Homo sapiens: one gene and its partners. The protein of the gene in region 1 interacts with the protein of each later gene in a pairwise test. Each region holds a gene or a part of one and is shown in the gene's direction. Other genes may lie near its edges.

Evidence for each region.
Region 2: the proteins of TNNT1 (region 1) and TNNI1 interact in binary tests that used the Homo sapiens proteins (3 or more experiments, as listed by UniProt).
Region 3: the proteins of TNNT1 (region 1) and TBPL1 interact in binary tests that used the Homo sapiens proteins (3 or more experiments, as listed by UniProt).

Annotation. Positions count from the first base shown.
Region 1 is NC_000019.10:55,139,179-55,146,210, reverse strand, and holds part of TNNT1 (troponin T, slow skeletal muscle), read left to right. Parts: intron 1-645; coding exon 646-667; intron 668-4,290; coding exon 4,291-4,354; intron 4,355-4,908; coding exon 4,909-5,025; intron 5,026-5,250; coding exon 5,251-5,328; intron 5,329-7,032. UniProt on the Homo sapiens protein: Troponin T is the tropomyosin-binding subunit of troponin, the thin filament regulatory complex which confers calcium-sensitivity to striated muscle actomyosin ATPase activity.
Region 2 is NC_000001.11:201,404,731-201,411,762, reverse strand, and holds part of TNNI1 (troponin I, slow skeletal muscle), read left to right. Parts: intron 1-229; coding exon 230-406; intron 407-1,327; coding exon 1,328-1,435; 3' UTR 1,436-1,437; intron 1,438-2,512; 3' UTR 2,513-7,032. UniProt on the Homo sapiens protein: Troponin I is the inhibitory subunit of troponin, the thin filament regulatory complex which confers calcium-sensitivity to striated muscle actomyosin ATPase activity.
Region 3 is NC_000006.12:133,977,192-133,984,223, forward strand, and holds part of TBPL1 (TATA box-binding protein-like 1), read left to right. Parts: intron 1-2,890; coding exon of another isoform or gene 2,891-2,897; 5' UTR 2,898-2,934; coding exon 2,935-3,069; intron 3,070-5,376; coding exon 5,377-5,459; intron 5,460-5,625; coding exon 5,626-5,689; intron 5,690-7,032. Other genes in the region: umcharacterized LOC128092253, read left to right, coding at 2,891-2,897. UniProt on the Homo sapiens protein: Part of a specialized transcription system that mediates the transcription of most ribosomal proteins through the 5'-TCT-3' motif which is a core promoter element at these genes. Seems to also mediate the transcription of NF1. Does not bind the TATA box.

The DNA of each region.
Region 1 (7,032 bases):
ACCGACACCCAAGCCTTCTTCCCCAGTCTGGAGGAATCTTTACAGAAGGGTTGGATGTTTGCGGAGAAGCACCACCCCATCCCCCCTTATCTTCGCCTCCAACCTTGTCTGTTATTTTCTCCCCCATATACATTCAAAGGTTGGGGCTTGGAATTTAGGATTGCAGAGGAGGCGAGCGCTGGGAGTCAGGGTCTCCAAGGTCGGGCCGGGGGCGGGGGGGCGGTGGGGCGGTGGGCAGGGGGCGAGCTGGGGAGAGAGCGCTGGGGTCACTGAATGAAGACAGAGGTTGGGACCCCCTGCACTGCTGGGTCCTAATGGAGGAGAGCAGGAGCTCTGGGCATATAAATAGAGAAAGGTCTGGGGGTTTGCACTCCTGGGTGTGCAGACAGTGGGGGTGGGGGGTCCCCACACCAGTTCTGAATGTATATCTGATGCGTGTGACCCTCTTCCTCCTTTACAGCCACCCTGACTTTCCTTCCCTCTTTTCTTCTCCCCATCCCCCCTCCTCCAGAACTGGACTCCAGAGTCCTTCCCTGGGGTCCTGGGGGCCGAGGCTTGGGGGGTCCCTCCCCAGGGTGTGTCAGGCCTAGCCCCTCTCCTCTAAACTCTTGCTAATTATCTCTTTTTATCCCCCACCACCAACAGAAGAGGAACGCCCCAAACCAAGGTGAGATCCTACAGGGTGGGGGGCCCCAGTCATACATCTTCCTAAATATTCCCTCTACCCCCAGAGACAAGGTGTGAGAAAGGCAGAGATGGAGGGAGGAAATTGAAACAGCAGTCGACATTTCTCCTCCTCCTCCTCCTCCCTCCCCCTTTCCCTCCTCCCTCCTCTCCCTCCTCCTCCCTCCTCCTCCTCCACTTCCTCTTCTTCCCCTTCCCCTTCTCCTTCTCCTTCCCCTTCTTCTTCATCGTGGTCATAGTCTCCACCCTGTTACCCAGGCTAGAGTGCAGTGACCCAATCCTGGCCCACTGCCTCAACATCTTGGGCTCAAGCAATCCTCCCATCTCAGCCTCCTGAGTAGCTGGGACCACAGGCATGTGCCACCACACCTGGTTTTTTTTTTTTTTTTTCTTTTTGTAGAGATGAGGTCTTGCTATGTTGCTTAGGCTGGTCTTGAACTCCTATCCTCAAGCAGTTCTCCCACCTTGGCCTCCCAAAGTGCTGGGATTACAGGCGCAAGCCACCATGCCCAGCCAGTCTGTTTCCTTCTTTCCACCCAGTGGTCCCTCTTCCCCTCGCGCCTTTACCATCACCCCAGCCTCCTCTCTGGCCTCCCTGCCTACAACTTGTGGCTCATCCTCCTCCATGACTCGAGAGAGACTTTTCTAACACCAGAGCTAACCCTGCCCCTCCTCTGCTCAGAATCTTTCCTCAACTCCCCACTACTCTTAAGACGCAGTCAAAGCAACTAGCCTGCATTCAAAGCCTTCCCCATCTGGCTCCAGCGGACCTTTCCGGCATCTGCCTTCCCCACTGACAGACACACAGCGTTTCATGGTTCTCTAGCCATGCCTGTGCTTTCATACCCCTGAGCCTTTGCACACACTGTGCCCTCTGCCTGCGCAGCGGCAGGTGGGAGGATCACTTGAGGATAGGAGTTCAAGATCAGCCTAAGTAACAAAATGAGATCCCCCACATCTCTACAAAAAATTTTAAAAAATTAGCCGGGCACAGTGGCACACACCTGTGATTCCAGCTACTCAGGAGGCTGAGGAAGGAGGATTGTTCGAACCCAGGATTTGGAGGCTGCAGTGAGCTATGATTACACCACTGTACTCCAGCCTGGGCAACAGAGCAAGACCCTGTCTCTAAAACATAAATAAAAATAAGGGAATGGGGCCGGGCGCAGTGGTTCATGCCTGTAATTCCAGCACTTTGGGAGGCTGAGGGGGGCGGATTACCTAAGGTCAGGAGTTTGAGACCAGCCCGGTCAACATGGTGAAACTCTGTCTCTACTAAAAATACAAAAGAATTAGCCAGGTATTGTGGTGGGCACCTGTAATCCTAGCTATTTGGGAGGCTGAGGCAGGAGAATCGCTTGAACCGGGAGGCAGAGGTTGCAGTGAGTCAAGATCGTGTCATTGCACGGCAGCCTGGGCAACAAGAGTGAAACTCCATCTCAAAAAAAAAAAAAGGGGGTGGGGTGGGGTGGGGGAATGGACTGAGAGGGATTCCAAGGCAAAGGGACAGGACTTGGGGATTGTTGGGCAAGGGGAGGGAAGCAATGGGGACAACCCCGAAGGGTCTCTGGGCTGGGGAACAAAGTGGACAGTGGGGCTGCCATCTCCTTCTCAGAGAAGTTGGTGAGCTCCATCAGGACGTCATGTGTGGGAAGGTGGGAAAAGTTCAGGAGATACCTGTTAGCTTGAGTCTGGGGCTTAGGAGAGAGTCTGGACCAGAGACAGTTGGCGAGTCCTCAGCAGTTGATGATACCTGAAGTCATTGGAGTGAATGGCATTGATGATGAGAAAAGGGAAAAGGAAAGCTCACTGGCAGCTCACGGGGCTGTCGGGGCAGGAGATAGGGATGGAACAGCCAGAGGGGTGGGAGGCAAGCCGGTATTCATTCCTGTACAATATGGTAAGCCATATTTTATTCCCACACATGACGCCCTGATGGAGCTTATCGACTTTTCCAAGATGGAGATGACGGCCCTGCTGTACACTTGGCCCCCTGGCCCAGAGACCCTTGGGGATTGTCCTCACCTCTTCCCTCCCCTTGCCCAGCATCCCCTAAGTCCTGTCTGCTTCATCTTGGAATCGCTCTTCACTGTCTCAGAAACCCAGAAAAGAGAATTCCAAGGAAGTGGCAGGAAATCAGAGCAGGCTGAGGGCTGAGCCTCAGAGCGGCACCACCCAATAGAAATAGATGGCAAGCCACACACGTCACTTACAATTTCTTACTAAAGGCTGGGCGCAGTGGCTCACGCCTATAGTCCCAGCACTCTGGGAGGCTGAGGCGGGAGGATCACTTGAGCTCAGAAGTTCAAGACCACCCTGGACAACATAGTGAAACGCCATCTCTTTTTTTTTTTTTTTGAGATAGAGTCTCCCTCTGTCACCCAGGCTGGAGTGCGATGGCACGATCTCGGCTCACTGCAATCTCTGCCTCCGGGGTTCAAGCGATTCTCCTGCCTCAGCCTCCTGAGTAGCAGGGATTACAGGCACGTACCACCATGCCCAGCTAATTTTTTTTTTTAATTTCTAGTAGAGATGGGGTTTCACCATGATGCCCAAGCTGGTTTTGAACTCCTGACCTCAAGTGATTCGCCCACCTTGGCCTCCCAAAGTGCTAGGATTACAGGCGTGAGCCACCGCGCCCAGGCTGTGAAACGCCATCTCTACAAAAAATTTAAAAATGGCTGGGCGCAGGGGCTCCTGCCTGTAATCCCAGCACTTTGGGAGGCTGAGGCAGGCAGATCGCCTGAGGTCGGGAGTTCAAGACCAGCTTGGCCGGCATGGTGAAACCCCGTCTCTACTAAAAATACAAAAATTACCCAGGCGTGGTGGCAGGCGCCTGTAATCCCAACTACTCGGGAAGCTGAGGCAGGAGAATCGCTTGAATCTGGGAGGTGGAGGTTGTTGTGGTGAGCAGAGATGGCGCCACTGCATTCCAGCCTGGGTGACAGAGTGAGGCTCTGTCTCAAAAAAAAAAAAAAAATTCTTACTAGGCATATTTTTTAAAGTACAACAATATAGGAAAAATTAATTTTCATAGCACAGTTTTTTTAATCTGTTATATAATGTTTTATCATTTCAACATGTAATCAGTATAAAACATGATTAGTGCCGGGCGCGGTGGCTCACACCTGTGATCCCAGCACTTTGGGAGGCCGAGGCGGGCGGATCACGAGGTCAGGAGATCGAGACCATCCTGGCTAACACAGTGAAGCCCCGTCTCTACTAAAAATACAGAAAAATTAGCCAGGCTTGGTGGTGGGCGCCTGTAGTCCCAGCTACTCGGGAGGCTGAGGCAGGAGAATGGCGTGAACCCAGGAGGCGGAGCTTGCAGTGAGCCGAGGTGGCGCCACCGCACTCCAGCCTGGGTGACAGAGCAAGACTCCGTCAAAAAAACAAAACAAAACCAACAACAACCAAAAAAACATGAGTAGTGAGGTATTTTACCTTCTTTTGTGTGTTTCACTGACAGCCCGCCTCAGCTGGGACCCTCCACGTTCAGGAGCCTCCCGGGGCTGGCGGCTACCTCACTGGACGGCACATCCCGGAGGTGGGAGGTGGCTCAGGGAGGTCGGGCCACTCATGGTCTCTGTGTTTCTGTCCACTCAGCCGCCCCGTGGTGCCTCCTTTGATCCCGCCAAAGATCCCAGAAGGGGAGCGCGTTGACTTCGATGTAAGTGACAAGAGACCCCTCCGCAGGCGCAGTTGCTAGTCTTTAAGGGGCCTTTGTGTCAATCATGAAAAGGCGCCGGCCGGGCGCGGGGCCTCATGCCTGTAATCCCAGCACTTTGGGAGGCTGAGGTGACCCACCTGAGGTCAGGAGTTCGAGACCAGCCTGGTTAATATGGTGAAACCCCGTCTCTACTAAAAATACAAAAATTAGCCGGGCGTGGTGGCAGGTGTCTGTAATCCCAGCTACTCGGGAGGCTGAGGCAGGAAAATCGCTTGAACCTGGGAGGCGGAGGTGGCGGTGAGCCGAGATCGCGCCATTTCACTCCAGCCTGGGAGGAAAAAAAAAAAAAAAGGCGCCGGTCCCCACTCCCCACTCCCGTCTTTGGGAAGCCTGTCCTTGGAAGAGCTGATTAGTGTCAAACACGAGGCATTGCTGCCACCTGCTGGATACCGTCCTGGGAAACGGTTCAGTTCACCATCCTGCATGGGGGAGGTGCTGGGAGGCTGCTGCCCCCTCCAGGGTCTCCTAGGACGGGCTGCCCGTGTGTCCTGCAGGACATCCACCGCAAGCGCATGGAGAAAGACCTGCTGGAGCTGCAGACACTCATCGATGTACATTTCGAGCAGCGGAAGAAGGAGGAAGAGGAGCTGGTTGCCTTGAAGGAGCGCATTGTGAGCCGAGAGTCCGGGTTCCCCCCGGTCTTCCTCCCTCCATGTGGATCCCTTGCATCTTGGGAGATGCAGATAATAGTTTTCCTCCTAGTACAGAGCTGAGCCTTAGGCTTTCGCGAATTCACCCAAGTCGGTGGCCACACTCCAATCTGTTTATTAGCCTACTCTGGGGAAGGAAGACTGGGGGTACGTCCCTGCACCCCCTTATGCTTCTCCGTTTCCCAGGAGCGGCGCCGGTCAGAGAGAGCCGAGCAACAGCGCTTCAGAACTGAGAAGGAACGCGAACGTCAGGCTAAGCTGGCGGTGGGTGCCTCCCCTGCCCTGAGAGCCCAAATGTTACTTCTTCAGCCGGATGCCCATTTTGTTATTATTATTATTATTATTATTATTACTATTATTATTATTCTTTGAAACGGAGTCTAGCTCTGTCGCCCAGGCTGGAGTGCAGTGGCACGATCTCAGCTCACTGTAACCTCTGCCTTCCAGGTTCAAGCGAATCTTCTGCCTCAGCCTCCCCAGTAGCTGGGACTACAGGTGCGCACCACCACGCCCGGCTAAATTTTGTATTTTTAGTAGAGATGGGGTGTCACCATGTTGGCCAGGATGGTCTTGATCTTCTGACCACATGATCCGCCCACCTCAGCCTTCCAAAGTGCTGGGATTACAGGTGTGAGCCACCGCATCCGGCCTATTATTATTTTTTATTCGTTTATTTGGAAATAGGGTCTTGCTCTGTCACCCAGGCTGAAGTGCAGTGGTGTGATCCTAGCTCACTATAACTAGGACCTCCTGGGCTCAAATGATTTTCCCACCTCAGCCTCCAGAGTCGCTGGAACTATATAGGCTGCGCCACTCTGCCCCACTAGTTTTTTTTATTTTTTTATTTTTTGTAGAGACAGCATTTTGCCATGTTGTCCAGGCTGGTCTTCAACTCCTAAGCTCAAGCAATCCACCTGCTTTCACCTCCCAAAGTGCTGGGATGACAGGCATGAGCCATCGTGCCCGGCCTGGATTCTCCATTTTCTTCTTTTCCCTTTTTTTTTAATTTTAATTTTTTTTTTTTCTGAGACAGTCTCGCTCTGTCACCCAGGCTGGAGTGCAGTGACGCGATCTCAGCTCACTGCAACCTCCGCCTCCTGGTTCAAGCAATTCCCCTGCCTCAGCCTCCTGAGTAGCTGGGATTACAGGCACCTGCCACCAGGCTCGGCTAATTTTTGTATTTTTAGTAGAAATGGGGTTTCTCCATGTTGGTTCAGGCTGGTCTTGAACTCCTGACCTCAGGTGATTCACCCCCTTGGCCTCCCAAAGTGCTAGGATTACAGGCATGAGCCACCATGCCTGGCCATTGTCATCATTATTACTATTATTATTATTTTTTTTTATTTGAGATAGGGTCTTTCTATGTTGCCCACGTTGTTCCCAAACTCCTGGGCTCAAGTGATCCTCCTGCCTCAGCCTCCCGAGTAGCTGGGATTACAGCCACCTGCCCGTCACCCAGCTGTGAAGGGGATTTTGCAGATGTGATTAAATTAAAGATCTTGAGATGGGAAGGTTGTCCTGGATTACCTGTGGGGAAGGGCAAGATCATCACAAGGGTCCTTATAAGAGGAAGGCCAGAGGGTCAGACTGAGAGATTTGAAGATGCTGCATGGCTGCCTCTGAAGATGAAAGAAGGTCCATGGGCCCAGACATGCAGGCAGCAGCTGGAAAAGGGAAGGGAATGAATTCTCCCCTAGAACCTCCAGAATAAATTGGTTCTGTTCACAACTTGATTCCAGCCCAGGGGGACCAATTTCAGATGTCTGATCTGCAGAGCTGTAAGATAACAAATCTGCATTGTTTTTCTGCCACTAAATTTGCAAATTACAGCAGTGATAGGAAACTAAGTTTAGGCGCGATGGCTGACGCCTGTAATCCCAGCACTTTGGGAGACCGAGACAAGTGGATCACCTGAGGCCAGGAGTTTGAGACCAGCCTGGCCAACATGGTGAAACCCTGTTTGTACTA
Region 2 (7,032 bases), on another chromosome or scaffold:
GGAACAGTTTCATCCTGAAACCACCCCACCACCTCTCCGTGGAAAAAGTGTCTTCCACAAAACCGGTCCCTGGTGACAAAAAGGTTGGTGACTGCTGATAGGTCTGGCTTCAAGGGTGGACAATTTAAGGTGTATCTCTGGCTGGAACCCTAGCAGTCTGAGGTCCTCAGGAAGGGTGTCCTGTGGCTAGCTGCCTCTCCAGTGAGCCCCGGGCGCTTCTCACCTACAGATTAAGGACCTGAAGCTGAAGGTGATGGACCTCCGTGGGAAGTTCAAGCGCCCGCCCCTGCGTCGAGTCCGTGTCTCGGCTGACGCCATGCTCCGGGCCCTGCTGGGCTCCAAGCACAAGGTGTCCATGGATCTGCGGGCCAACCTCAAGTCTGTGAAGAAGGAAGACACAGAGAAGGTGAGGTCCCTTTCCTCAGAACATTCCACCCTCTGCCCTACCAGCTTTCCCCTTGTCAACCCCTCACATGGCCTCAGGCTGGCCCAGGAGCTCCTGTTGGAGACCAGTCAGCTTGACAGACAGAACATTCTAGAATGCTTTGGGAGACCAGTGTGGGAAGAAAGAAAGAAGATTTGCTCCCTTCCTTCAGGCTGTTCCCAGTCTGACGAAGAAACTAGGACATAAAGAAAGCTAGACCCCAGACGGAGAAATGAAGTAAAAATCTTGTTCCCAGTGTGAAGATAATGTGGAGATTTAGGGTAATGGTGGAGATGACTGCCTGGTCACCACAGGGAAAGGAGACAGCAGCTCATCTTGGTTATAGCCACACACGAGCATAGACATTAGAGAACTGAGTTCAACCACCCAGCAACAAATTATTCAAAGTTGGTTGAATTCACAGTATATGTGCCCCAAATTGATAGGCTCTGTAAGGAACAGGGATGAAGGAACAGTCTCTGGCCCAAGAAGCTTCAGAGGAGAAGAGATAAGCCAGACAATATACTGAGGAAATGGAAAAGCAGCCGCATTTGCAGGGGAAGACTTCTTGGAAGAGGTGGCCTTGAGCCTGCTGAGTGCCAGACCAGGAGGGTGGCATGGAGCCTTGGAGGAGGTTTTGCTGAGGTGCACTGAGGTGGGAACTAGCCCCATAGCTGCCACTTTCACCCAGTGCTCCCAAGCCACACAGCTTCCTTTTTCCTGTGGGGCCTCGGCTTGGCCTGTGTCCACCTGCCTGGCTGAGTCCTAGGACCTTACCAGCTGGGGAGGGGCATCAGGATTTCTTATCATCCGAGGAGACTGGTTTCCTATCACCCAGCTTCTCTTGAGCTGGGGGGCCGTCCAGCCTGGTAAGTCCCTGATGTGTGTGCCACTTGTCTACAGGAGCGGCCTGTGGAGGTGGGTGACTGGAGGAAGAACGTGGAGGCCATGTCTGGCATGGAAGGCCGGAAGAAGATGTTTGATGCCGCCAAGTCTCCGACCTCACAATAGAGGTACCTAGAGACCAGCTCCCTTCTCTGGGGTCCATCAGAGTCTAGAGGATAATGAGGGAGTCCACAATGGGCAGGCGGGTTGTACTTAGTGTGGTGCACGGATGCACGGACTAAGGCACCGATGAGACTGATTTGAGTCGGCTCTCCTGGGCTCAGTCCTGGCTCCAGCACCATGATACTTGGGCATGTCATTTCTGTTTGGCGGCCCTTTTTGTTCCCATTATCTATGAAATTGGGGGCTGTATCAAATCAGTGGTTCTCCAAGTGTGGTCCTGGGACCAGCAGCGTCTACATCACCTGGGATGCAAATGATCAGCCCCCACCCCAGATCCACTAAATTGGAAACTCTGGGGTGAGGCCAGCCTTCTAGGTGATTCTGATGCACATGAGAGTTTGAGAACCACTAGGTTAGAGGGTCCCTGGGATCCCTTCATCTCTGACTTTCTGAGAATCTATGCACTTTTAAATACCTCCTGGTGATGTCCTTTATTTGTGCTCCCTGCGAAGTACCCAGCACTCACAGTACCTGTTCCCAAGGAGCTACCACTCACAGAAGCTAAGACTTCCCACCATCTGAGGAAATAGCTGGAGAAACTGGGCAAAGCAAGGAAATCAGGCCACGTAAAACCCTCTACGGAAGTGCTGAGAGAATGTGCAATAGGGCAGGCATCCACCAGACAGCACTGGTCAGAGCAGGCTTTCTGGAGAGGAGGAGCTCTCTGAGGATGCGACGAGCGAGTGTTAGCTGATAAAGGGAAGGGCATGTTGAAGGGCTGATGGTGCAACAGAAGCATGGAGGTGGGAATTAAGCAGCCACAGAGTAGCATGGCAAGGCTAGGTAAGAGCTGAGGGCCGCAGTGTGGAGGAGCGGTGTGAGGGGTCCCAAAAGGGGAGCAACTGTGCCCGAGGGCCGAGAAGCTGAGGTTTTGTAGGAGCCCTTATGAATGAAGATCCAGTCCGGGGTGCGCTAGGGCTGAGAAGCCCTGGGGACTGCATGTGCTGTAGGTAAGTCAGGGATTCATGCGCTGCACACAGGTCCCCGGGAACTGATGGCTTTGCCTCTTTGTCCCTACAGGCCAGCTTGCTGTGCTGCGCTCTGAGCTCCTGCTTCATGCTTCTTCTCCAACCCAGCTCACTCACCTCTCTGCCTGTGTCTGGAGCATCCCTTCCCACCTCTCCCCCACTTCTTCCCTCCAGCCTGCATGCCCTCCTCTGGAACTGGGATTAAACAGATACCCAAGAGGCAGGAAAAACGCGAGTGTCTGAAGACCTCACCCTGGCAGGGTGGGCTTCTATCCACCCATGAGGCACCTGGGGCTTCTCAGCCACCCCGTGGTGTAACAAGTGGAGGAGGAGGAGGGGGTGAGAACACCTTTCCTCCAGCCCTGTGCCACACTCCTTCTATGTGTGTACAGTGTCCACAGGCATCACACCTTCTTCATTAAAAACCCAGTTTCCTGGTCATTTCTGCAGCTCTGACTGTGAGCCCTGAGAAGAAAGGGAAGACTTGGGGCTTGGGAAGAGAGGGCTGTGCTGGGCTCCAGTCACCCTGTCTGCAGTCCGGAGCTCGGGATCTGAAGGGAGGGCTAAGGAATTGGTGGCTGCTTGCCAGGGTCCCCTGGGGCCCCTTCTGCCCAGTCCCTGTGACGTCACACTGCACACACTCACCACCCAGGATGCTCAGCTCACCAGAGCCCTGACCTCCGAGAAATGACCCCGTCCTGCCCCTGACTCTGGCCATCAGAAGAGGCCTCTCCATTAAGAGCCGCTTCTCCTGCCGGCTTTCATACTCTCCTTCCTCTGCAAACCTGGATTAACTCTCCCTGATGTGTGCTGGGTTGAGAGGTCAGGGCACTTTCAATCCCTCACCTAGTCCTGCTGCACAGGGCAGGAGGCCTCACAGAAGAGATACTTGCAGTTCCAGGCCTGGCCACCAGGTGACGCCTTCCTTCTCTCCTGGGCTCTCCTGTCCCTCCGGCCTCTGCTCTCCCCACGTTCACCCACCCTCCTCCCAATTGTTTCCCCTTCACACTCCTGCACTGGTCCTATCCCCCAGGACTGATTCTTTCCCGGAGATGGGGTGGCCACTTATCTGTCCTCTGGATCAGGTCCTTTCTCCATCCCACTACCTCCTGGGTCCAAAGCCTGGTGAGAGCATAGGGCCTTCTGGGGTGGAAGGGGGGTCTGGGGCAGCCTCTCTTCCCCCAACATACTCACTAGAGTGGCTCCTGTGAAGCAGAGACCAAAGTTCTGACTTTTCTTTTTCCTTTTTTTTTTTTTTTTGAGATGGAGTCTCGCTGTGTCACCCAGGCTGGAGTGCAGTGACGCGATCTCGACTCACTGCAACCTCCGCCTCCCAGGTTCAAGCGATTCTCCTGCTTCAACCTCCTGAGTAGCTGGGATTACAGGTGCGTGCCACCACACCCCGCTAATTTTTGTATTTTTAGTAGAGACAGGGTTTCACCATGTTGGTCAGGCTGGTCTCGAACTCCTGACCTCGTAATCTGCCCACCTCGGCCTCCCAAAGTTCTGGGATTACAGGTGTGAGCGACCACATCCGGTCAAGTTCTGACTTTTCAGGGCAGTGGGATGGTGACTTCTGAGCTAAGCCTGCAAGGGAAGTGGCTGTTCCCAGACCTGGGGTCCCTTGGCTTTTCGACCACCCTAGCACTGGCCCTAGGAGGGGCTGAGTTATCAGAGCAGCAACCCTTCTACCCACCCTACTGAGTCCCCATTCTACCTTCGAATCCCATGTATTATCTTCCATAAGTGCCAGAAATTGGTACAAAGTGCAGTGCCAGCTGCTCCCCAGGGCATGGTCTGGCTCTCTGGGCTGCTGGGCTGCCAGCCCCTTTCAGAAAGCATGGCAGTGGGAACCAGCAACTTGGGCTACCTTAGGGGAAGCAGCACTCTGCCCAGGGTTCTTGCTATAAATAGGTCAGTGGGCAGAGAGGCAGATGTGTGCAAAAAGCACAACCCCAATCACACACAGAAACCCGTAGGCACGGACACACCCAGTCTCAATGCACGAAGTTGGAGAACCTGACAGGGCTGGTCCAGGCCACAGAGGATGGGGTTAGGCTTCATGCCTTCATGCCCAGGCAGCCACAGAAACCCACTCTTCCCCGCCTCACAGGGCTCCTCCGGTTGGCCTGGATCCAAAGCGATCTCCTTGTTTCACCTCTTTCCAGCTCTTCCCTAGAGCCTGGCCCCAAGTTCCAGAGTCAAATCCCAGTTTTGCAGTCAACTATTAACCTGGGGCCCTGGCAGATTGGGGTATCCACCCAGTCATGTAAAGGCAGGAGACCTGCTCTGGGCCTGACTCAAAGCAAACACGTGGGTGCAGAAGACCCATGGGAGGAGGAGGTGGGGCCCACTCAACACACCTAAGCCAGTGGCCCTCTAGGAGGGGCAGAAGAGCCAACCAGAGGGTTCCTGGAGGTCATCGGGTTCCTCCTTCTGCTTCCAGGCAGCAACAGACCTAATTCATCTCCTGTGAGGATGGAGCAAGGGCGAATATAGGCATAGACATATCTGGAGCGCAAGGATTGAGAGGCCCTGTGGACAAGGGGAAGGAGAGCTTGGGGGTGGGAGAGGGATCTATGGAAGGGGCTGTTGTAGCCAAGAATGGGGCCTGGGCTGGGGGCCTGGCCTCTGGAGAGCCCTGATTCTACTCCAGTCTTCTCTCACCATGGAGACAACACCAGTAGAGCTGGGAGCTGGGGCCTGCCACTGAGTAACAGCTCACACATGTAGCACACTTATGCGTCAGGCACCAGCATGTACACCTTAATTTATTTAACTTTCACAACAACCCTAGGAGAAAGGTACAGCTACTATTCTCATGGTACAGTGGGGAAAACTGAGGCACAGAGAGGTTAGGGACTTTTCATGATCACACAGCTAATAAGTGGTGGTCCCAGGATTCAACCCAAGAAGTCTGTTAGAATCCATACTCTTATCGACTATTTTAATAACAGCATTTCAATAATAGTAATATGTGATGTTAAATGCTTTATCTGAGTTATATCATTGCATTCTCACAAAAATGGTACATTTGTTAGCTCAAATTTACAGATGAGGAAATGGAGGCCTGGAGAGTTCAAGTAGCTCACTCTAAGTTACAGGGTTTGCTAGCTGCAGACTGGAGACTAGATCTCAGGTCACTCTGCCTTGGGGTTGCCCTTTTCTGAGATCAGACTGGCCTTAACAGAGCCCAACTTTCTTGGAAGGACACAGCTGGGGGTCGAGGGTCCTGCATATGCACCTGGGGAGTCCCCACACACCCGCACCAAAGGGGAAACATTCAAAGGAGATGCAGGTGACATACAGATGGGCTAAGGTGAGGCCTTCCTCCAACATGGGGCCCTGGCTGAGAGTGGAGGGATAGGGTGCTACTTGGGGGATATCTATTACTAATCAGCACACAATAGCTGGGTGGGCACCCCCTCTCTCTGCAGCTGGTGGAGATGGGCCTGGTGCTCCTCTCTGCTTGGTAGGAATGACCAGGGCAGGATGCCACCTGCTACACTCTTGCCTGTCCCAGAGCCCTTGGGAGACCAGCTGTTGCTCCCACCTTTCCCCACAGGGTGCCCGGTCCCCACGGCGCAAGGAGGCCAAGCTCAGCTGTGTGTCTGAGCCCACTCAGCAGCAGGCATGATCAGGGCAGGGCCCAGCGCTAAGGGCTGCTGGGGCTAAAGTGCCTTGCTGAAGGAGGGGCAGAGTTAAACATTAGCCACAATGGCCCCCCGCGAAGTGAGTCATACTCCCCACAAGTCTCTGGGCTGGGCAGCCGGGGGCGGGGGGGTTAGCTTCGTTCCAGGTGGGTGACCAAGCTGCGGAAGCCCAGGACAGTTCGCTGGGACCAGTGCTAATGGCAGCTTCTGCTCCTGACCCCCATCAGGTCTCTTTCCTCAGACATCCCCAAAGCTTGTCTGCCTGTGGGTCTTTCATTAAAGGTGACGGGCAAGGGTTTTCTCTTCCTTCCAAGACACACTTCTAGGCTGGCTTGTGGGTCCCCTGAGACGAAGGCTGAGCAGGGTGAGCCTCGAAAACCCCATAGCACTGGCCCAGAGCACTGCGGTCAATGTCCGAAGGACCAGAGAGGGAGGGTGACTTGCTCAAGGTCACAAACCTAACTGGAGCTAGGAAGTAGGTCCCCAGACTCCCAGTCTGAGGAAATTGGATGTGGACAGGGCTTTGGTCTCCTGGCCAGAGGCAAACGCCCAGGGATCTGAACAGGCTGCCCATCTCTGGCCTCAACTCAGCACCCCAACTGGCTCCAGTGCCAACCATTGGCCTCTCTCACTGGTTGGCACAGGCTGGGTGAGCCTGGCCCTTTGCCCTGGGTTCAGGAGAGAGGTATGGCTTTGCCTGGCAGTCAGGGGAGGTGTTCCAACCTGGGAGCCCCTGGGGGAGGAGCGTGTGTGTGAACGCTTGTGCCTGTTCATCAGAAGGGGTGAGCATGGTGTGTATGCGTGGGCATGCAGAATGCAGGGTGATGACCTGTCTGCCCGCCCTGAGTGTCACAGACACCTGTGTGTCCCCTGTACTAGTGCCTCCCAGATGCTCTTCTCCTGACTGGCTCTTTGTGAC
Region 3 (7,032 bases), on another chromosome or scaffold:
TAAAAAAGTACTGACTTTTTATATTGCATCTTTAATTGAAAACTTCTTATTAAAGCAATCTTTTCTGAGCCTGCTTTTCAGGTTACTCATATTATAAAAATATGAATACTTAGTAACTTATGAACTATTCCCATGACCTTATTTTTAAAATTTAAGTTGCTGAAATGATGAAAAATCACCAATTTTGAATTTCAAGGCTTCTTTTTTGCATTCACACAGATTTTCTTTACCCCTTTTTTTCTTGACTTAGTTTTACTTATATTGTCCTTAGTGTTGTCCCCTCAGGCAGAACTCAAAGTAGTAAATTCAGAGTAGAGTAGAACTCAAAGTAGTAAATCTGAGTCAATTTGTTTTCTCCTGTTTGATATAAAAACAAGTAAAATAGTAAATTTGATAGTTGATTCGCATGAAGTTTCTTCTTCAGTAGTTGCCTTGTGGTAGCTTATCCTCAAGGGATGTGCAACAGTTAGGATTAGGTTTGGCTGTATATCACAGAAATCCAACATGAGGGAAACTGATTTTTCTCTCATACTCATGAGGTCTAGAATTAAGAAGAACAGGGATAATAAGGAGATTCACAGCGTCAGGGGCCAGGCTGCTTCTATCTTGTTGTTCTACCATCCTCATCCTCATTGTCTCGTGGTGCAAAATTGGCTACTTGAGCTCTAGCTCTCATATCCAACCTCTAGACAGCAAGAATGAAAAAGGGCAGAAAGGCAAAGGAGCCCTTGCTGGCTTAGTTGGTTGCTCTAAGTAGACTTCCCAGAGGATACATAACCATTTTATTTTATGTCTCATTGACCAGAACATATTCAGGTGGCCAGTTGGCTATACCAGTTGTTGCCAGGGAGGCTGACATCTATAGTATTTTATTTCTGCCACATTGTACCCAGCTAAACATCTGAGCTCTGATCATTATGAAGGCAAGGTGGAATGGATGTTGGGGTAAGCAGCCAGGAGCCTAGCAGAAAACCTGCTGCTGTCCAGATGGCTCAGTAACTGGGCTCTAATGTAATCATGGGAAGTAGTGCTAAGAAATCCTCTGCCTGTTGATTTGAACTTATTTCATCAATAATTACTGTCATTTACTGTTACAATATCCTAGATATATATGCTAAGTACTTTTCATACATTATATAATTTTCACAACACTGCTGTGTGGTAGGCATGGTCTATTCCATGTTACAATATGAGAACACTGAGACACAGGTTACATAACTTGCCCAAGTTCTGATAGCTATTAAGTGGTGAGTCAGACATTGCACGTGCTTAAGACCAATGGTAATAAACTGGCCCTGTGCCTCTGCTTTTTAATCTGTCTGCTTATATATCTATCCATCAGTTCCTATTGTCACCCCTGCCTCACTCCTCATACGTAAAAATTATTTGAGGTAGCTCAAACATGCACAAATAACAGAAAAACAAAAAGATACACAGATTGAGGGGAATATGGGAATACAAGAGTGAAAAAATATAATGAAGTTGAGGTACAATTGATACACAGAATTGAATGCCATATGGTCTTATAGAGGTGTCAGAAGTCTTGGTCTGGTTTGCCACTGTGTTCTATCAGAAACTTAAAGGCAGAGAAACAAGACCTTCTTTATTTAGACTCTTGGCCCCTTCACTGTTTTAGTTATATAATAATTTGAATCCTTATTATAAAGAATACTAGTTTTTTACATTGTGGCTGCAAGGAATTTTAAAAACAACTATAGTATGTTTTTATCATTTTCTGATCTTTTTGTGAGTTAAGTCAAATTGCCATTGTTTATTTTTTGAAGTGTGAAAATGCAAAGAGAGAATTTTTTAGCTGGGTCATGAGTCACGTACTTAGTAAAAACTGGGGCTTGTTTGTTTGTATAAATCATAGGAGTCTCGGCAAATACATGTTGGAAGATTCTGATCTTGATAAAAATGGTATTATGCAAATTACTTGGTAGAGCTCCTCCTGTACACCCAAGTTTGCAAACTCCTTGAGGACAAAAGACTTTGCCTTAATCATTTTTTTCCCTCCATTATCTTCAGTGTATAGGTGTTCAGAAAGAAAATAATGAATGAATGGTTAGTAATGAGAAAAGTCTGTTAGTAAATGTTATTCATATTTTTGCTGCTTTAAACTTAAGTCAGTTACTCTGCTTGAAATAGAAGTATGTCATATTTTTTATAGTACCAGCAAGTTGCATGAGAAGGGTTATATGCCACTAATGGTTAGACATTGGAACCAGAGTCCAACCCTTGAACGTGGTGCATTTGGGGATTTGTCATTACTGTGGTACACCTGGAACGTAGTGTTTGTAGAGGTGAATAGCAGGAGATAAGTCTGGCAAGCTCCTGTCAAGTAAAAGTTACTTTTTAGTTTAAGGAATGAAAGTTAGGCCTAGATTTTGAAATATATTAGATGTCATGTTAGCTTTTTTAAAAATGACATTTTTAGTGGGGAAAAGAAAGGACATGATTTGGTTTGTTTGTTTTGACAGAGTCTCACTCTGTCTCACAGGCTGGAATGCAGTGGTACGATCTCGGCTCACTGCAACCTCCGCCTCCCAGGTTCAAGTGATTCTCCCACCTCAGCCTCCCTAGTAGCTGGGATTACAGACATGCACCATCATGCCCGGCTAATTTTTGTATTTTTAGTAGAGACCAGGTTTCACTATGTTGGCCAGTCTGGTTTTGAACTCCTGACCTCAGATGATCCAACCACCTTGGCCTCCCAAAGTGCTGGGATTACAGACATGAGCCACTGTGCCCGGCCAGGGACATGATTTGATTCTAGTAACATTTGAAAAATAAATAATATAGATTCATTTTTTACATTTCAATTTCAAAATTGTGAAAAGTGAATTAACAACATTTAAGTTTAATGACTTTATTTTGTTTTATTTCTCAGGATGTGATCTTCGTGGTGGAAAGCTAAATTTTAAAACCACCCCAATGGATGCAGACAGTGATGTTGCATTGGACATTCTAATTACAAATGTAGTCTGTGTTTTTAGAACAAGATGTCATTTAAACTTAAGGAAGATTGCTTTGGAAGGAGCAAATGTAATTTATAAACGTGATGTTGGAGTAAGTATCTGAGTTTTCGTATTTGTACTACATAGCCTAATTTTATAGTTCTATGACTAATACTAAAATGTATTCATTCTACAGATAGTTTATGAGCACCTTACCATGTGCTGGTTGTCCTGGATACAGAAGTGAGCCCTGTAAAAGCAATCCCTCCTCTCATGGAGGTGCAAGCTTTTGTACATAGAGTGCTGGTACCTGAATCAGCAAAGAACTCATTGGTTACAGAGACATTTTATTGCTCTCTCAATTTATTTTAACTGAAGAAAGGGACCTTTATATTCGCACATGTACCTATTCAAATATGATTATATTTGAATTATATTTGAATGATGCCTTAATATATATTATAATTTTTATAATATTTTAATTGTCATATTCTTTAACAAAGGTAGATGGTTTTCTTTCATAACAAACTGCTGAAAATAATATGATTTATATCTTAACCTGGACATCTTAAATTTTAGTTTTTGTTAAACCTGTAATATTTTAAAGCCTGAATATTAATAAGTAATAATAAAACCTTAGTGTTTTGAGATTAACATTATAAAAGACATTGGATGTCATTATAAACCAAAGATTGACGAGAGGAATATGTATTTTACACATTTGTTATGAAAATTAAGAATGTATCTCAAGGCTCTATTTAGCTTTAAAAATTAGATGCCAGGATACCTATGTAAATTGCCATTAATTAATTAATTTTTTTTTTTTTTTTTTTTTTTTGAGACGGAGTCTCACTCTTCCGCCAGGCTGGAGTGCAATGCAGTGGCATGATCACAGCTCACTGCAACCTCTGCCTCCCAGGTTCAAGCAATTCTCCTGTCTCAGCCTCCCAAGTAGCTAGGATTACAGGTGCACACCACCACGCTCAGCTAATTTTTGTATTTTTAGTAGAGACGGGGTTTCACCGTGTTGGCCAGGATGGTCTCAATCTCTTGACCTTGTGATCCACCCACCTCAGCCTTCCAAAGTACTGGGATTATAGGCGTGAGCCACCGTGCCTGGCCGTCATTAATTCTTAGTACTAGAAACTAAGTAAAGATGAATTAAATTCAATTAAAAATTTCAGTGACTCACAAAGATTTTCAAGTTTGTCAGCAATCCCATCCTTCCTTTAGAAAAGTAATAAATATGTCTGCTCAAAAGTTTAGAGAGGAATATGCCTAACACTGCTTTGGTACTTCAGCATGACATATGGAAAGGAAGTAGTTTTTTTAAGGCAGGTTAATTGAAAATTCTGAGTTGATAGACAAGCTGGTGATGGTGAGAGACAATTAAATGTAGGATAAACTCAGTCAAGTGTTTCTCAGTCACTTGTATATGAAATTTTATAATGTATTTTAGTTCAAATTTTATCTTGATCTTTGGTGAATTTTGAGTCTGCCCAGATTTAATAGCTTTCTAGTTTGATAATATGGCATATGACAGAGAATGAAGAACACAAAATGTAACAAAAATTTTAAGCAGAAACATCTGATTCATTTATGTTAGTCAGTGAGCATTTATGTCTTTCTTACATAGAATGAGCATCTAACAAATATTTCCATTAATGAAAAGTTGGAATGAAAATTTAAATTTGCATATTTTCTTGGAGCTTAGTCCTTGACCTATTTATACACACTCTGTAGTTATTTCATTGTAACCCATAGCTTTAAATGAATTTCCAATTACATCTCCAGCTCCAACATTTCTCCTTTATTCAAGATGCCGATGTTGAACTTGAGTATGTAATAAGCATCTCAACTCTAGGATGCAATATAAAGTAGTGATGGGTACCATGAAGCAGCAGAAAGCAGAATTAGGAATTAGAAAGCAATGAAGGGATGGGTGTTTCAGGGAAATGATTAGGGAGGGCCTCTCTTCAGGAGGTGACATCTGGTAAGAGACCTGAATGAAGTGAGAATATTGAGGGGATAATATTCCAAATGAAAGCAACAGCTACTGCAAAGCTTCTGAAGCATGAACAGATTTGGTGTGTGTGAAGAACCATGCAAGTTCCAGTTATATGACTGGGGTGGAATGAGAGTTGAATTGTTTATATACTTGGAGTACATTGATTTCAAGTATATAGAGTGAGAGATTTCTATACACCTTGTATTTTTAATTAATCAAATGTCTTTTTGGATTAATATGTTCTTTGTGTTTGGTATTGTACTTGATTTCAGAATGGTAGATTTGGAGAGCAGTTATTGCAGTCTTGGATAAGCTTGGAGAGTAGTATTTGGACATTAATATGACTATATAGAACAGAACCTTATGTGAAAAATAATGCTTATGAGGTAATCAGATTTTTTTTCCCCCCAGAAAGTATTAATGAAGCTTAGAAAACCTAGAATTACAGCTACAATTTGGTCCTCAGGAAAAATTATTTGCACTGGAGCAACAAGGTAAATGCTACTTGGGTTTTTTGTTTTTATTTTTTACTTTTTCCCTCATGGAAAGGACATTTTCCTAGACTTAACAGCAAAATCATATGTAAAGTTTGTTATGTTCCTCAGTATAACATTTATTTCCTGTGTAACTGATAATCTTTTTCTTTCCTTAAAACCGTAGTGAAGAAGAAGCTAAATTTGGTGCCAGACGCTTAGCCCGTAGTCTGCAGAAACTAGGTTTTCAGGTAACGTTTTCAAATAGTATCTAAACTACAAATATTCAAGGACTTATTTTTATAGAATTAAAAATTGTAATAGACTCAAGAAATCACTATGCGTACTATTCTTATGATTAAACTTTTTCTAGGTTTTTTAATACTGCCCTTCAGTGTGAAAATTAGTAGCAAAATTTGGCTATGTGGGTATTTGTAAAGGATCCTAGCTTTTTCCCTAATTCCTTTCCCATAAAGAGACTTGTTTCCTCACAAGTTAATTTCCTTTTCAACTCTTTTTTAAGTGTTTTCACCTCTGACGTACACAAACAAAATGGTTTTTGGTCATCTCAAGAATGCCAGGTCAGAATGGTGAATAGAGAATGGCAGAGGCCGTTGACATGGACACACCAGCTGGCAGGCTCTCACACTTGTAACGTGACTGTCACTGGCATGTCAGCCTCATCACTATAACTTGATAGAGGTATACCTTTGAATAAAACGATTACATATTATGGACTTGCTAGGTCACTTGCAAATGATGAATAAATGAAAGATAAAGATGAGAATGGTCCCTGAAGATGAGGGCAAGGCTGTTTGGGATTGAGACAAGTTTGTAGAAGTGGGGATAGGAAGTTACCTTTCCCTCTGATGACTCAGTCTCTCTGAAGTAGAGGGTGATAGGAAGAGACTGAACGGCTGGTGGGGAGTGGGGGTTGGTGCTTGAGAAGGGTGGCAGTAGAGAGAGGCTTGAGTTGTACTGTGATTTGAGAGTGCTGCCACTTTGCGGTTTCCTGGCTTTGCGCAACTGCTGTGTGCAAGGCTGAGTTGAAGGATAGTTCGCTCACCCAAAATTGTGGTTTTAGGAGGAATGTTTGAAAAGATAATGAGATGAAACGAAGATGTTGGTTGGAGTGGCCAAAGTTATTAATGTTAACAGCATTATTTTCAGCCTTGGAACTTCTTTTCTTAGTGTAACATTAGAAGTGTTGAGAGAAATCCCAATTAGTTAGAAACAAATTTATCACTCTATCCCCAGAAAGAAAATAAACATCTAGCTAATCTCACAGAAATGTCATTTTGCCTTATTGCATATGAGAAAAACATCTGACTTTTGGAGCCCAGTGTACACTCTGTATTTACTGACTTTAAAGTGACATCTTTTCCATTTTTACTCTAGCAGGATGACCTGGACTTAAATTTTTTTTCCCTCACTATTCTCTCTCCTTTCTCAGTAGTTTTAAATATTTCACTTAAAGTATTAAAAAATTAAACATATGATTAGAAAGACCCATACTGTTTTGATCATGCAAATACCTCAGTTTTTAATTTTTTTAATGGAGTTTTTGAGCTTTTTAAAAAACTGAATTAAAGCT